Regions from separate parts of the Homo sapiens genome. Here region 2 is linked to region 1. A link means that fine-mapping ties the variant in region 1 to the expression of a gene that starts in the linked region. Tissue or cell type: whole blood. Region 1 holds a variant in brackets; the other region holds the start of a gene. All regions are shown on one strand. Distances are from middle to middle.

The links. PIP is the estimated chance that this variant, and not a neighbour inherited with it, causes the effect.
Region 2: it holds the start of SERPINE2, and the variant in region 1 is fine-mapped to the expression of SERPINE2 in whole blood (Lepik 2017, PIP 0.95).

What each region holds. Positions count from the first base shown.
Region 1 is chr2:224,119,941-224,127,853 of GRCh38, forward strand. No RefSeq gene overlaps it. Among named protein-coding and RNA genes, the nearest start is that of SERPINE2, 85 kb to the left of the region's middle. The variant T/C (reference allele first, on the strand shown) is at 4,919.
Region 2 is chr2:224,035,693-224,043,605 of GRCh38, forward strand. SERPINE2 (serpin family E member 2) reads right to left here and starts at 3,594. Exons shown (of 9, transcript NM_001136528.2): 1 at 3,407-3,594. It overlaps LOC124907991 (a long non-coding RNA gene), which reads left to right and starts at 3,710. Exons shown (of 2, transcript XR_007088103.1): 1 at 3,710-3,850; 2 at 6,026-6,800. RefSeq lists a silencer at 3,760-4,054.

The sequences.
Region 1 (7,913 bases):
TCTTTCCTGTGCTGTTCTTGTGATAGTGAATGAGTCTCATGAGATCTCATGAGATCTAAGGGGGAGTTTCCCTGCACAAGCTCTCTCTTCGCCTGCTGCTATCCATGTAAGACATTACTTGCTCCTCCTTGCCTTCCACCATGATTTTGAGGCTTCTTCAGTCATGTGGAACAGTAAGTCCATTAAACCTTTTTCTTTTCTAAATTGCCCAGTCTTGGGTATGTCTTTATCAGCAGTGTGAGAATGGACTAATAAAACTACTCAGCCATAAAAGAAAAATAATGCCTTTTGCAGAAACTTGGATATAGCTGAAGGCCATTATTTTAAGTGAAGTAACTCAGGAATGGAAAACCAAATACTGTATGTTCTCACTTATAAATTGGAGCTAAGCTATGAGTACACAAAGACATACAGAGTGGTTAATGGACATTGGAGACTCAGATGGAGGGAGGGTGGGAGGTGGGTGAGGGATAAAAAACTACATATTGGGTACAATTTGCCTTTAGGGTCTTAGTCATGAATTCTTTGCCTAGGCCAATGTCCAGAAGAGATTTTTCTAGGTCTATCTATCTATCTATCTATCTATTGCTATATAGATCTGCCATTTATATAGCTTTAGATAGATAGATAGGTAGATAGATAGATAGATATACAGATATATATATATATTTTCTTGTTCTTTTCTATAGAAGAGAATAAGAATGGAAAAAAAGAAAAAGAAAAAAGAACAGTAAGATTGCTTCAAGAATAAAATTATAAAATTACTTAAATATTACATGTTTATGTAGAATTTTAAAAATGTGTGTAAAAAAGAGAAAAAGAAAACACAAACTACCCATAATCCTGCCACCCAGGGCCAGTTGCTGTTATAATTTTGTTGAATATGTTTTCAGGCATTTTTTTAAATCCATATCTAGATATTTAAGTATAAGAAATAAAAAATGTAATAGTGCCTTTTGTCATATTTTCTAACATCCTTTTCACTGAATAACATATGATAAACATTTTTAAATAATAAATTTTATACTAAAATTTGGCTAGCTGCATAGCATTTCATTTTGTGCAAGGGATTTATTTAATCATTCCCAGATTGCCTGTTTTTTCACTTTTTCTTTTGCTATAATATTTAGCACTGTGAAGATCAATCTGGTAAGCACATCCTTAAGAAGTTACTTTAGGGATATTTTTAAGTCAGAAAAAATTATTAATGTTATAGTTTGTAATCAATATAACATTATAAACATGAATAGAAAATGGCCTCCAAGATGGTAGAAAATGTAATAAGAAGGTTACTTTAGTTTTTAATTTCCAAGTGTATAAAAACAACTTAAAATTTTAAAGAAATAAATGTGTGTAGTTAAGACGTCAAATTTCCCTGGAGGGTTTTTAGGAAAAGCAGCTCTATGAAGAAGGATGAAGCTTGTATTGTCTAATAAAAGAGTGGTGATCCGTCTTTATGTTTTGGAAACCCTAATATGAGAATGTGAAGATCATTTTTAGGGGATACGACCTCCTACAATCAGGCCTTAATTCTTTTGAATGTTTCTTTCAGTTTTTAAGAAAACAACTCTCCTTGTTGGAAGAGCAAAAACCTGTCTGTTGGGCATCTGCTTCCGGGTGAAGTTTAGCTTGGTCTGTTAGTCTATGGACTTCAATTATGCCCTTGTTCCATATTTAGTCCCATGACTCACCCTGACCCTCTGTTGTACCTAGAATCCTCAAATTCAAGCTTCATGTAGTTCTTTAGGGCAGATCATTTCCTTTCACAGATGCTCACTGTCTTAGTTCAACGTTGCTATCACAGAGTACCTGAGACTGAGTAATTTATAAAGAAAAGAGGTTTATTTGGCTAGTGAACCTGGTGGCTTCAAAGTCCAAGGTTGGGCAGCCCTTCTGATGAGGCTCTTGTTATGCTTCAACTCACAGCAGAAACATGGAAGGAAGAGGACATGTGTAGAGAGAACAAACACAAGAAGGGACTATCTGCTTTCTAGGTAACTAATCCAGTCCCATCATAGTAAGAACTTAATCCCGCAAGATGGCATTAACCTATTCATGGCAGATCCTGTCCCATAACCCAAACATCTCCCACTAGGCCCCACCTCCCAACACTGCCACCTTGGGAGTCAAATTTCAACATGAGTTTTCTTGTGGCAGATCACAACCAAACCATATCACTCACCTATCTCTACCTATTCTTGACTATTGTTTTTTCCACTTGGATCATTCACAACTCCTGCATATGATTTCCATTTTTCTAAAAATCTATTGAAATCTTGAATGAAATATTGAGTGTTTATGGTCTCCCCTTTCTCTTCTTTGTTGTGAGTTTATACATTGGTCAAGCAAATTTGTTCAAAATAAGGTTACTTTTTGAATCATTTTTTTTGTGCTATTTTCTTTTTATTATTTCAAAATGTAACGAGTCTTAATAAAACATTATAATAGGTAAGACCATGACAGAATTGTTTTCCCAATAAGAAAACCTATTAGCTGATAAAAGGAGAATAAATGTACTTATGAAACCTCTAATCAATGTGCTAATTGAAAAAGTAGTTCTTTTTCATTGTTGCCAGAACATAAGGATCATTACTGTAACTCATTCATTAGTCTCCAAAGAAGGAGATTGCTCAAACAACTTGACTTCTGGTATTCTTTTAGACATACTGTTCCTATAACACTTTCCCTTATGCATTCTAGCTGACCTAGGGGCAAATTAAAAATTATCAATATAACTAAGATTTCCTCTCTAATTTGCTGCTGTGACTCAGTGCAGTTCACTTTTTGGTGATTAATAAATAGCTAAGGCAACTTGCCCTGTGGACTGGCACAGGATTTCCTGTCTAGTCATCAATCCATTAATCTGGAAACATCAACTAAAATACAGTGTTATTATTGGGCAAAGGACTAGAAGGAGTATAAAATGTGCCCATAGGTAGAAAATGAAGAATTCAGCATCTATTTCCAGACTCCTCAAATTATGCTACTTGAAAATCATTACTGTACCATCACCTGTTAGTCTAGGAAAAACAAAATTAAGAACCATTGTTTGCTTCATATATTAATTGAATTTGTGAGGAGAAACCTAAACAGAGTATTTTAGAGAGTTCATGGCAATCATAGGCCACACTCCCAAGGGCTTTGGTTATTTTCATAACCTAACCCTGTGCCTCCCTAGAAGATCATAGTTCTTGGTGATTTTTGGATGGCTTTTGGTGGATTTTTTAAGCTGTTAAAATTTAGTTACGATTTTCTTAATTTTATTTTTACTTGTCTTCATTAATGAGGCAGAATAGCTAAATACTGGGGATTTATAGAGCTTGGCATTCAAATGTATCTCTTTATTCCAAGAAAGCTGCAGATATCATCTATGCTAATGCTTCCTAAGGTTGCCTGATTGTAGAAATCATTTAATGTGTGCATTGGTTAGCCTCAAAACTCAGTTGCTCAACGTGACCATCTGTTATTGCCTACAAATCTGTAGGCTGACTGCACTTCTGCCAACTGAGTAGTTGCCAGTCAGCTTGGCCTGGCTGATCTTGGTTGGGCTTGCTGTGTCTGCAGTCATTTCTCAGGCACAGTTGGATGGTCTCACTCATATGTCTGATAGCTAACTGGCTATTGACTGGGGTGACAAGGGCCACATGTCTTGAATAATTCAGCAGACTAGATTGGGCCTGCTCACACAGTGGCAGCAAACAAGAGCATAAGTAGAGGCAAGCAAGACCTCCTGAGGTCTAGCACAGCACCAGCCCAGTGTTACTTCTGCCACACTCTTTTGGTCAGAGCAAGTCGCAAGACCAGCCCAAATTCAAGGGTGGGGAAACAGACTTCACAACTTTGGGAGAGGAGCAGGGATGATACATTGAAAGTGGCATGGATTCAGGAAAGGTGGAGAATTCTGACCATATTTACAAAACATCTATCTCAGGATACATGTTTAAAAATGCAGATTCCTAGGTTCTGCCACTGATATCAATGTCCCTTTTCAGATCAAACAAGCTTGTCAACTCTATTCAATACCAACCCCAATTGGTGCTCTCAGGAAACCTAGGGAACTGTCTAGTCTATTCCATCTTGCCCACAATCTCCCCTCTCTCTCTCAGATCGAAGACCTCTCACAACCCCATTTTCTGCAAAACAAGGTCAACTAGGCTGAACTTTTTAGCTCTCCTTTGGAAACATGGGGCAATAACATGTTCCGGGGATAGACTGTAGCTCATGGCATTTGTATGCCAATGTTACTAGCCATTGGTCAAATTTGGTTCTCAAAATATGATGCTATTAGCCCTATAACAAAGTAACTAAATTCATTCCTTCAACAAACATTTATTGAATATCTATCATCTACCAGACACTGTCAACATAAAGATATTAAACATAGCCTTTTGCTTAAACCTTGGTTTTACTAGAGGAAAGAAAAGGACTTTATTACCAGAAAACTTTCAGGAATGATTTGGAATTAGTGATATTAAGCAAAAAATATATTTTATTATGTAATTTGCCCTAAGCATTGACAAAAGGTTTTTTATCTTGAAAATTCATGTAACTTTTGTTATATAGAAATATTTTTTTTTAAAAAAAGAATTTAATGTTCAGGATCAAAATGAGCACTCTTAATTTTTGTATTCCTGTATTTTTCTTTCTTTGTTGGAGGTATCTTTGTTACTTGAAATTTAGTAAAATAAGGAGTAGAATAGATCTTAAAAATAATTTAAATTCACAATGTGACTCAGGTTGAAGAGAAAATTTTATTTCTTGCCAAGGAAATTGTTATAGATAAGATCATTTAAATGTTTATAGTGATTGAGCTATACCAGTGAGTTCTCATGTATTTACTAGTCTATAATAATCGTTCTTACCAGGCATGGTGGTGTGCACCTGTAGTTCCAGCTATTTGGGAGGCTGAGGTAATAAC[T/C]TGAGCCCAGGAGTTTGAGGCTGCAGTGAGCTATGATTGTGCCTGTGAACAGACACTGCACTCCAGCTTAGACAACACAGACAGACCCCCATCTCTAAATATATATATGTGTGTTCTTAAATAATGAGATCTTTCTTCTTTTCAGAAAATTGTTATTGAGTGCCTATGAAATGCTAAAAGTTTGAGATATATCAGTGAACAAAACAAAGATCCTTGCTTTTGTGGAGCTTAATTCTAGCATATTGAAATTCAAAGGATTTCCTAACCTCTAAGGGTTTTGGCGGTTGGTAACTTAGTCAGCTTAGGCTGCTATAACAAAATACCATAGACCAGGCAGCTTAAACCATAGCTTAAACTCACAGTTTACAGGCTGGTAGGTCTAAGATCAAGGGTCTGTCAGATTTAGTTCCTTGTGAGGGCTCTCTCTTTGGGTGGCAGATAGCTGCCTTCTTGCTCTTGCTGTACCCTCACATGGCTGAGAGGAAACTCTGGTGTCTCTTTTTCTTCTTATAGGGGCACTAATACCATCATGGGGGCTCTACCCTAAAGACTTAACTACCTCCCAAAGGCCTCACCTGCTGTGTATTAGTCTGTTTTCATACAGCTGATAAAGACATACCCAAGACAGGGTAATTTATAAAGAAAAAGAGGTTTAATGGACTCACAGTTCCACATGGCTGGGGAGGCTTCATGATCATGGTGGAAGGCAAGAGGCACGTCTTACATGGCAGCAGACAAGACAGAATGAGAGCTAAGCGAAAGGGGAATCCCCTTATAAAATCATCAGATCTCGGGGGACTTATTCACTACCATGAGATTAGTATGGGGGGAACCACCTCCGTGATTCAGTTATCTCCAACTATGTCCCTCCCACAACATATGGGAATTATGGGAGCTACAATTCAAGGTGAGATTTGGGCGGGAACACAGCCAAACCATATCATCATATTGAAGTAAGACTTCAATACATGAGTTTTGGAGGAGACACAGACATTCAGTCCATAACAGTGACAGTACCTTGTACTCAAAGTAAAAAATAAAAATCAAGGGAAAGGTGAGACAAATATGGTGTTATAGGAGTCCTCATTTTGTAAATTTTCCCCCAGAAGGTTTTGATTTCTGAAGATATCAATTGCACCTCCCCTGAAACATAATCCATTTAAATTATGAAGTCCTGGAAAATAAGGATAGGAAATACTTTCCAAGGAGACCGGGGTTCTGAGAGTGTCTGGGGAGGAGCATGGGAATTTGGGTATTTATGGTTCCCAGAAAGGCCCAGCCTGGAGCCTCAGCAAGGAGGTGGTTATGTGAGGCGAGCAGCCCTCCAGATGCAGGGGCTCTCAGGCCAGGGCCCACAGGAAGCCGAGGGCGTGGCTGGCTGAGGCTGAAGGAAAATTCCAGGGCTGAGAGGCAGTGCCTTGGGGACGCCACAGTGTCTTCAGCCTGGGCTTCATTATACAAACAATAACAAAAAGCCTCAGACAACAACAACAAAATACTCTCAAAGTGGGAATATTCTGAAATGGAATAAAACAAATAATATCTAAGTAGTTTATTTTGTTAGAAAGAAAAAGGATGATTTCAGCCTTCAGGTCTTATTAATAAAAGAGCCTTCAGAGAAGAGAAAAGATATCTCAGAGGAAGCAAGAAAGATGCGATGAACCCCAGGGAAGGCTGTTTGGGGGAAATCCAAGTTTGGATGAAGCTGTGGCTGTGGAGGATGGTCTGGGAGTTACTGGCCTGAAATAGTCACGAGGAACCTGAGCAGAGAAAGAAGACTCTGAGATCAATCAGGAAAGCTTGAGCCCAGTGTGTGGTTTGGATCAGAGCACAGCTCAAGTCCAAAAAGCCAGTGAGGTTCAGGAGCTCGCGGTCTTCCTGACAGCCACATCATCCATCTCCTCTCCACACCCTTCACAGCCACCTCCTCACAGAACAGGCTACGGCTCATTTCTACCCAACGGCTGCCAATGTCTGTAGCTAATTTTCTTGTTTCTTTAGGCCCCTCAGATGTTGAGCGGATGAATAAATATTTAATCTGATCATCAGGATATATACATACATATCATGGCTTGTATCATGTATCTACCTGTATGTGCAAGGTACATATGATGAGAAATACTTGCGAGGCTAGAACTGACCAGGTAATCAACCCTGAGAGGAATCACAAAGTCAAGCTAATCTTAAAGGCAGGGTAAATTAGAAATTAGGCATCGGGATCTGGAGTCAAGCCTCTTTGGCTCTCCTCGTATCTCTAGCACTTCCTACTTGCGTGACCCCCGGTAAATCACTGAATTTCTCTTGATTCAGTTTCCCTTTTGTAGTTTGTGGAGTTTATGGAGTTGTCGGAGGGATAAATGAGTTTGTACACGGAGAGAGCTTAGAATGCTGTCTGCCCATATTATGGCACTCAATAAATGATGGCTGTAATTCCCTGCTTTGAACCAGTTGTCAAAATGGTCAGAGCAGTTTGTCAACAATTTAAATGCTTTCACATATGAAGCAGGTAACACCTATGCATAAAACCAGGCAGAGGTTTGTGTGAGTTGATGCATCCTTGTCTAGCTGAAATGAACAACGGCTGCCCAAATCTAACCCTTCTTGTCAGTATTGCCACATCTTGTGATTTGTCAAGACAAGTTGGGTATCAGGATTTTTGCATGAAACCTCTCAGTTTTTAAATACTGGAAACTATCTTAAATGTTTTTTAAAAACTCAGTGCAGCCCTGGCAAAATGTCCCTGCATCCTGTGTCCTACCCATGAACCAGAAGTTTGCCACCACTGATGAACGCGGTCTGACACAGTCCCAGATGTTTGAGCAGAAAGCATGACTGAAAAGATCTCTGGAGAAGCATTGAGAAAGACTTGCCATTAGAGAAGGGTTTTGATGTCTGTTTGTTGTTCAATGTCAAAGGCAAGCCTAACGCAAATAATGTGTTTTTCTTGTTCTTCTCAGTGAAGCAGCTGGGTTGATCCCTTCATCTGGTCATCAGA
Region 2 (7,913 bases), 84 kb before region 1:
GAGAAGCTATACATCCAAGTGGCATCTCCAGATTTCTAAATATTAACTCAAGTTGTATATACTTTGTTCAGGCCAACAACACTGCTGCCTACTGCTAGAAGTGGCACACCGGCCACCATTTTGCCACTTTTGGGCTCTAAAGCAAGGCAAGGCCAGCGTGACTAGAGCGGACCTTTGTGGAATTTCACAGCATGAAGAAGCAACAGGATCTGGTGACAGCCTGCATGTGGGCAGTGCGGGAGCCTGGCATCACCGTGAGACCCCTGCTCCAACATCTCCATGAACGGTGGAACCACTGCCAAAAAAAAACGGACAAATCTTCGCTAACAATGAAGCGGATATGGGGTGGGTGGTGAAAACTAAAATCAATTTTGGATTTATTTTGGGGTGTTTTTTTGGCCTAAAGGGCACGGGTAAGCGCACCAGACTGCAGGTAACTGATTGGAACACAGGAGCATGCTCAAGCTAGCTTAACATGCCAATCTGGGACTCGCTTCATATTGGTGAGAGTCGAAGCTGTGGGAACATGGTTCACCCAAATACACAGAGCACAAAAGGGATGACAGCGAACCCTGGGTAACCCCAAGAGGTAGCAGAGATGCCAGGGAGGAATAAGGAAAACCAGAAGGTGGCAACCAGGGATGGAAAAAAAAAAAAAAACCATCAGAAAGGAATAGAAGAACCTCATCAAATGCCACGGAGAAACCTAGTGGGTATCCATAAGATTGCTTGTTCAGATGAGAACACAGGGACACAGGGAGGGAAACATCACACACTGGGGCCTGTGGTGGGGGGCGGGGAGTGAGGTAGGGGAGGGATAGCATTAGGAGAAATACCTAATGTGATGGGTTGATGGGTGCAGCAAACCACCATGGCACGTGTATACCTATGTAACAAACCTGCACGTTCTGCACATGTACCCCAGAGCTTAAAGCATATTAATAAAAATTAAAAAAAAAAAAAAAAGATTGCTTGTTCAGGAAGTCACAGGCCTTGAACTTTGAGGAGACTCTGGCCAGCTTGCAAAGAGCTGAACAGGAAGGGCAGACCAGTTTAAGAAGCCTGGAGAGACGTGGTTGTCACTACAGGTGAGCTGAGGATGCAGGGACAAGGGAGGTTAAGGCATTCTTAAAATACTACTAAAAAAGAAAAAAGCTCACAGGGAGAGACTGAAGATAAAAGTAAGAAAAGGGAGTAACACTCACAAGGAGAGAGAGGCACTGGGAGTTGGGATTCAGGACACAGCTGGAGACATTAGTCACTGCCCCAAGGAGGCCATCTCTCTATATTTCTCTAAGTTCTCAGTCTAACTTGATTTTTCTTTATAATTCTACCTTATTCATTTATCATACATTTTACAACATATTATGTTTGCTTTTAGTTGGTTTTCTCCCACAAGAATGACAGTTTCAAGCGAGCAAGGATCTGCTCTATTTACCACCTATGAGTATCCAACAAAGTACCCAGACACAGTAGATGCTTAAGAAGATTTATTGGATGACTGGGTAAACACAGAAAAGTCTGTACAGGGGAGATGGGGGAGGACGTGAGGAGATACTTATGACCTCTATTCTCCTGGTAGAATGGGCTACAAAGTCACCTGCCAAACCCGCAAGAGGAAAAGCATTGGAGATCGCTTGCATTGAAGATTACAGTGGGAGTCCGGTTTGCAACCCGGAAGGAAGGAGCTTGCGGGTTGGAGGCACTAAGAGTTTTCAGAAGTTGAGCATCTCAAGAGAGGGCAAGACTTGGAGGTACTTAGAGGACTTGGTAGCTGGAGTACATGGAAGACACTGGATTTGAGACAGTCAAGGAAGTGCGCATCTAGAGCGTCCCCCACATGGACTTTAGGTCTAGAGGAGGAGAAATAGCCCAAGAGCCAAAGTCCCCATGCGATGGGAAAAGAACTGGCTGGAAGAGGACAGCAAGGCTGAGATGCACCCAGGGACGTGGCCAGGTCACCACCTCATTTCCAACTCTACCACCTCAAACAATCTCTGACTGGTATTTAATCACCCTTGTGTGGAAGTGAAAATTAGCTTTTTTTGGAGACAGTACTTTTAAAATTAAACTAATATGAAGTTCATGGGACACGGAAATTTTCTGCATAGATTCATTTTTGTTTTTAGAATAAAATACGATGACATTTTCATGACCTTCAGTAATTGCCCTGCATGGTACGATATTTTCAAACATTATTTTAACAAAGAATCAAAATTTGGGGGTTAAAAGAAACCTTAGATTACTCAGGTTAGTACCTTCATTTGCATAGCCAAAAATTTTTCTATTGAAATACTGCAAATAGCAAATAAGTACTGATTTAGACCTTCAGATAGTGTTGAAACTGTCTTCAATTTTCGAAGTGTGGTTTAGGATATACAAATTAGCAATGTTGACAATTCTTCCAGTTATCTGTGCTCAAGTTTTGATATAAAATCTTCAAAGTACACAATTATCACATATATTGTTCCACAACAATTCAGACAAATAAACGGCTTCTTGGCTTGAAAGAGGAAGTCACACCTTCGAACACCTTTTTATGCTGATGCTAAATATAAGAACGTCCCCTGCAAAGTAGCCAAAGCAAGACAGCAGCATTCGAGATTTCTCCAGAGACACACACACAAAGAATGTGTTTCGTTCATTAAAACACTAAAACCTTCAACAGCATCTTCCATAATACCTGAAGGTGGAGTGCTGTCTTATGTAATAGAAGCCTTCCTTCCCCGCTCAGTTTGTGGACACATTAAATGCCTAATTCCTTCCAGAATTTCTGAGTACCGTACTTTCATTTTACCTGCAGTCACTCATCCGCCTCGCAACTCCCGTTTCTACAGATGATGAAAATAGCAAAGACCTGCTCGCTCGGGTTAAATCGGCTGCCAGAGGCCAAGTTAAAGGCTTTCCCCACACCGCGCGTCACCTCCCTCTGCCCAGGCAGAGGTAACAAGTAAGAGTGCGCCAGTCTCTCCCCATCCGGCGGCGCGCAGCCTAAGTCCGGGGTAGGGGTTGCCGGCGAGCAGCTGGAAACCTCAGGTTCAGGGTCAGGGCCGGCTCGGATGGCCGGGCAGGAGCCACGCCGGCCCCGGTGCTCCCAGCTGCGGGTATCACTGGACGCCACCCCGGGGCGGCCCCGCCTTGCCCTGCCCGGGTCCCGCTCGGGGCTCCCGGCGGGCGGGACCGGGATGCCCGGCGAGCACCCAGCCCCGGCCAAGGCGGCCCGCGGGAGGCTGAGAAAGTTCTCTGCTCCCCGACGTCGGCGCCCCAGGGTCCCGCTGGCCCCGCAGCTTCCCGGCCGGGCGCAAGGTCAGGGAGCAGGGCCGGTGGCGCGCGGAGCCCCGGGGAGCGTCCCCCGCCGAGGGCAGCGCCGGCCGCGCCCGGGACTCACCGCGCAGCCTGTACTCACCGCGCTCGCTGGATCCCCAGGGGGCGGCCGCGGAGGGCGGTGCGGCCGCAACCGGAGCGGGAGCCTGGTCTCGGCGGCGCGGGGAGTCGGAGGACGCAGCCAAGCGGCGGCGGCGAGGAGGGTCACAGCCGGAAAGAGGCAGCGGTGGCGCCTGCAGACGCCGCGCAGCCCGGGCAGCCCCACAGCGCAAGCTGGCTGCCGCGGCGGCGGGGGCTTTATCGGCGGCGCCGCGCGGGCCCCCGCCCCTTCCTGCCGCCCCCGCCCCCGGCCCGCCTTGCCCCGCCTTCCCGCCGCCTCCTTTGTGTGGCCGCGGGCCGCAGCGTCCCCGCGCCCGGCCTCCAGGACGCCCCCTCTCCGCCTGCGACTTCTCGGATGCCGCCCCGCCAGGGGTCCGTGTCGTGGGGCTGCGCCCGGAACGCGCCGGGGAGACGCGCAGACCCCGAGGTGCGGCGCCAGCCCGGGCCCAGCTGCACGTGGGTCTCCCGGATGGGGGTGTGTGAGGTGGCGGGGGGAATACCAGGGCTCGTACCGCGTCCCTGAGACGCAGGGCATGTCGTCTTGGCTGCCCCCTGGAAGAGACAGAGGGCGCCCTGAGACAGCGCTCAGTCCTCCGGGTGATGGGGAAACGGTGCCAGGACGCGGCCGGGAAGGGGCAGATAACCCCTCGAGGCGTTTTGCAGGGTGTCCTAGAGCTGACTTCTCCCTGCCTAGGGGACAGAGGAACGGCGGCAAGTCGCCTTAGGCAAATACAGACGAGGGGAACCAGAAAACTGGATTCCCGGCTATGGTGATAGCATGAGGTACCCGCAGCGTCCTGGGAACCCAGCCCTTCTCAGCCGGTAACCACTGCTGCTGGGACCCGGTGCGCGATAGACAGGCACATACCCCAGGGGCCTGCAACAAATGACCGTCCCGCTCCGGGCTCTGTTACCTGGACCTCTCTTAGTTGGTTCCTCCTTTGCCTCTAGTTAGGTTTCTGGGGACCCAAGGACCCAACTTTAATGACAGTAATTTATGTAGCCGTTAGTGTAGAATCGTCGCTAGCAGGCAGACGGCCCCAACAGCGAGGAAGAAATGTAAATCTCCCTATACACAGCCCTGGATTAAGGGTACAGCTACTGATGAGAGCCACTTGGAAGATCAGCCTGCAGTCACCCCTTGGCATGCAGGTGGCCGTGCCAGAGTGTGCACGTGTGTGTTGGGGAAGGGGTTGCTCTGAAAAGTGTAAAATCTGGACCAGCCTAAGGGTGTTCTCAGTCTCTCATAGAGGGAAACAGGCTATGGGAGGCTTGGTCCTAAAATAAGGAGCAAACAGTCTACAAAAATGAGCATCTGTTTAATTATTTTACAGTCATACCAAATATTTATATTCAGTTACAGGGTAACTTTCTTATTCTCTGTGCCTGAAATGCTTTTTGTCCCAGGATCTTCTATGTTGTCTGCATCCTTACACTTGAGGTCACAACTCAAATGTCCTCTCCCCTAGGAAGCCTCCCCTGACCACTTGAGATAAAGTCACTTTATCCCCTCTAACCTATGACTTCCTTCATAACCCTCATCATGAATTGATTTTTTTTTTACCTTGTTTCTTGCTAGTTTTCTTCTACTCTCTCTCATTGGAATATACTCCCAGAGACCAGGGAAGAGAAACTAATTTCAATATTGTTTCCAACTCACTCTATCCCTAGTGCCTAGAGCCATACCACACATATAGCAGTTACTCAATAAATTTTGTTGACGAGTGGATGAACTACTAGCCAAGTGACTTTTAGACATGCTAAGAACTGTTTCAGTGACAGTATTGTGCTTGGTCCAGTCAGGGCGGTGTGGGCTGGAGCTGGGAACAATTCAAAGGAGGGGGGAAAGCCCACAGGTGTGAATGAGCTCGTTCAGTGTGTTTGAAAAGCTGGGAGTATCCTCTTCCAGATGGAAGGGAGTCATTCAAGAAACTACTGGAGAAATAACTGGGAAATGTGGGTGAAGCCAGATTATTATGAAAATGTGCCAGAATCCCTGCATCCATTTCTGTCTCAATCACATTTCTAAATTAAAATTTGTAATAGAGGTAATTGTAGGCTGGCATGCAGTTGTTAAGAAATGATTCAGAGAGGTCTCTTTTACACTTTGCCAAGTCTTCCTCATGGTAACATTTTGCAAAACCATTGTATAATATCACAATCAGGATATTAACATTGATACGTTGATTCCTATCTCACACACTTTGGTTAATTATGTGTAACTTTAAATTTTTACTAAAGTTACTCAAACCAGTGAGAGAAATGCACAAAATTACTATTTTGAAGAGTTTCAGTCTCTTGTCTTGAAGGAGCCAATGTTTTTCAAGAAAAAACAACAACAAGCCTTTTTTGCTTTCCCAATTAGAGTGTAAATAGGGTCCAAATTCTTCATCTATGAAAGACGTTAGAAGTCCTTAGGACTTACCTCTTTGGGTTACACTTTAATGACTGACATTTACTTCCCCATTCTTTCCTGTAGTGTCGAAGGAACATTTTGAGCAATACTGTACGTGACTTGTCAATTCTGAAATCACAGTGGATGCAGTGCTAACTAATATGCTAAAGTAAGCCTAGACACTAATGTTCCCTTCTCTCTCGCTAGACATGCGATGAGGCCAACGATGAGGTCTCCCAAAGGAAAGTGATTGAAGACAAAGACCCATTCTGCCAGTGGGATATGCTGGGAATACCAACTATACTTGTTACTGAGTGTGCATGGCTGGTGTTGGCCAGCCTTCCTGATGCCAGCAAGAGGAGACAGAAGTAATGACCCAAGCTACACTTTCCATGACACTCAAATGGCCAGGCTCTTTGACACCCACCGTGAGGGGCTGTTCCAAAGATGTTGTGTTCCTACCTCAGTTGGTCCCCACAAGCAGCAGGTTCCTCCTCCAGTATTCTCCAATATTTGACCCTTTTTGAGATGCATTTCTCATAGATGTGTACTTCCAATCCACATTTCCTTCCTACCTCTACCTCGGTTTTGTTTGAGAAATCCAAATCATTTAACACTTCTACCTGCTGTTTCTTTGTGACTTCACATTCACAGTGAAATTTCATTTTGTCCTGCAATTGTGTGGCTTGCCTTAATCCGCAAATAGAGCTTCAAATTGTTTATTCCTTTGACCTGGAGTTTAGCCAGCTCCAGCTAGGCTCTGAGTTTGGCTTTGTGTCCATAAGCCACAGTTGGGAGAAATGCAAGAACTGCCCAAACAGAATAAAACAAATGATCTATTTAGTCTTGTTTCCTCTCTTGGAAGAAGTCCAGCGTTGAGTGCCTTGGAATAAATGAAAATCCCCCACCCCACCTCCACTGCTCTCCCATGCACCCAAACAGTATGACCTTGTGTTTAAGTAAAAACCGTCCTTAGCTCCCAGTGGGATGATGGTGTTTTGTCTGGAAGACTGACGGATGTTATGATAATAAGATAATGGATACTCACTTCTCTCCTATCTAACCCCTATTTAAAAGACATTACACCGTAACAGTGCTTGTTACGCAATATTATAGTTGCAAATGTTGTTATGGAAGATTGTTTCAACCAGGGGAAAAGAGACTGGTAATAACAGTACACTTATACAATTAGTTTCTGAAACTGTTGCATTGCTTTGGGGTTTTTTTTTTTAGCTTAGAAAAGACATTTATCTTTTTATTTCCCTTTAAAGTTGGCTTTCAAATAAATTCAATTTCCTCTTTCTGTAACTTCTGAAACAGATTAAACCAGAGCATCAGTTTGCACTTTGCTATTGTCGTCACTAGTTTTCACCAAGAGCTTCAGAGAAAAGACATTACTAAGTGCTGGGCTGGGTATTATTTTCTACTTATATGTGACCAAATAGGATGTAACAGCCAGGTTCTGAGAGTCGTTGTGATACTGACCCCTTCAAACAACAGCCCAGCTGCTCTCCTTCCTTTTACCACCAAACAATAGATGCTGCCTCCCTTTTTCCATGGGTCTCTTCGGTCAATCTTCTTACCCCATCATCGGGCTCCCCTCCTTTTCTTCCTCGCTTCCTCGGGCCCTCCTTCTCTCCCAAATGTTACCAATAGCTTCCAATGGCAACCCCAGTAGTTTTTCAACATTCTTTATCACCTTTGAGTCCTTGGCAGGATTTCACTCTCATATGTGTGCCCATTTTTTGGAAACTCCTTTGCCTATTTTCTCTCTTCCTATGCCTTAACTTGCCTTTATCCTTTTTCCATCAAATCTTCCAACAGGTGGGCACCATGCAGTTGACTGTCCTCAGCTCCCTCCTCTTTTCTCCACACTCTCTCCCAGTGGAACGAACATTGATTTATCTGTGGCCACCAACACTTGTTCCCCTCCTCACCTTTTGATAGTGGAAACACCTCTTCTATTTTATGCAGCATTTTGTTGGGAAGGAAATCAAGGTATCCTTACTTTCACTAGCCAAGGGATGGGCATATGACCAAGCTCACTGGATTCCCTCCCAGTTCTTTGAATCTTGAAAAGAATGAAAAAGTAATT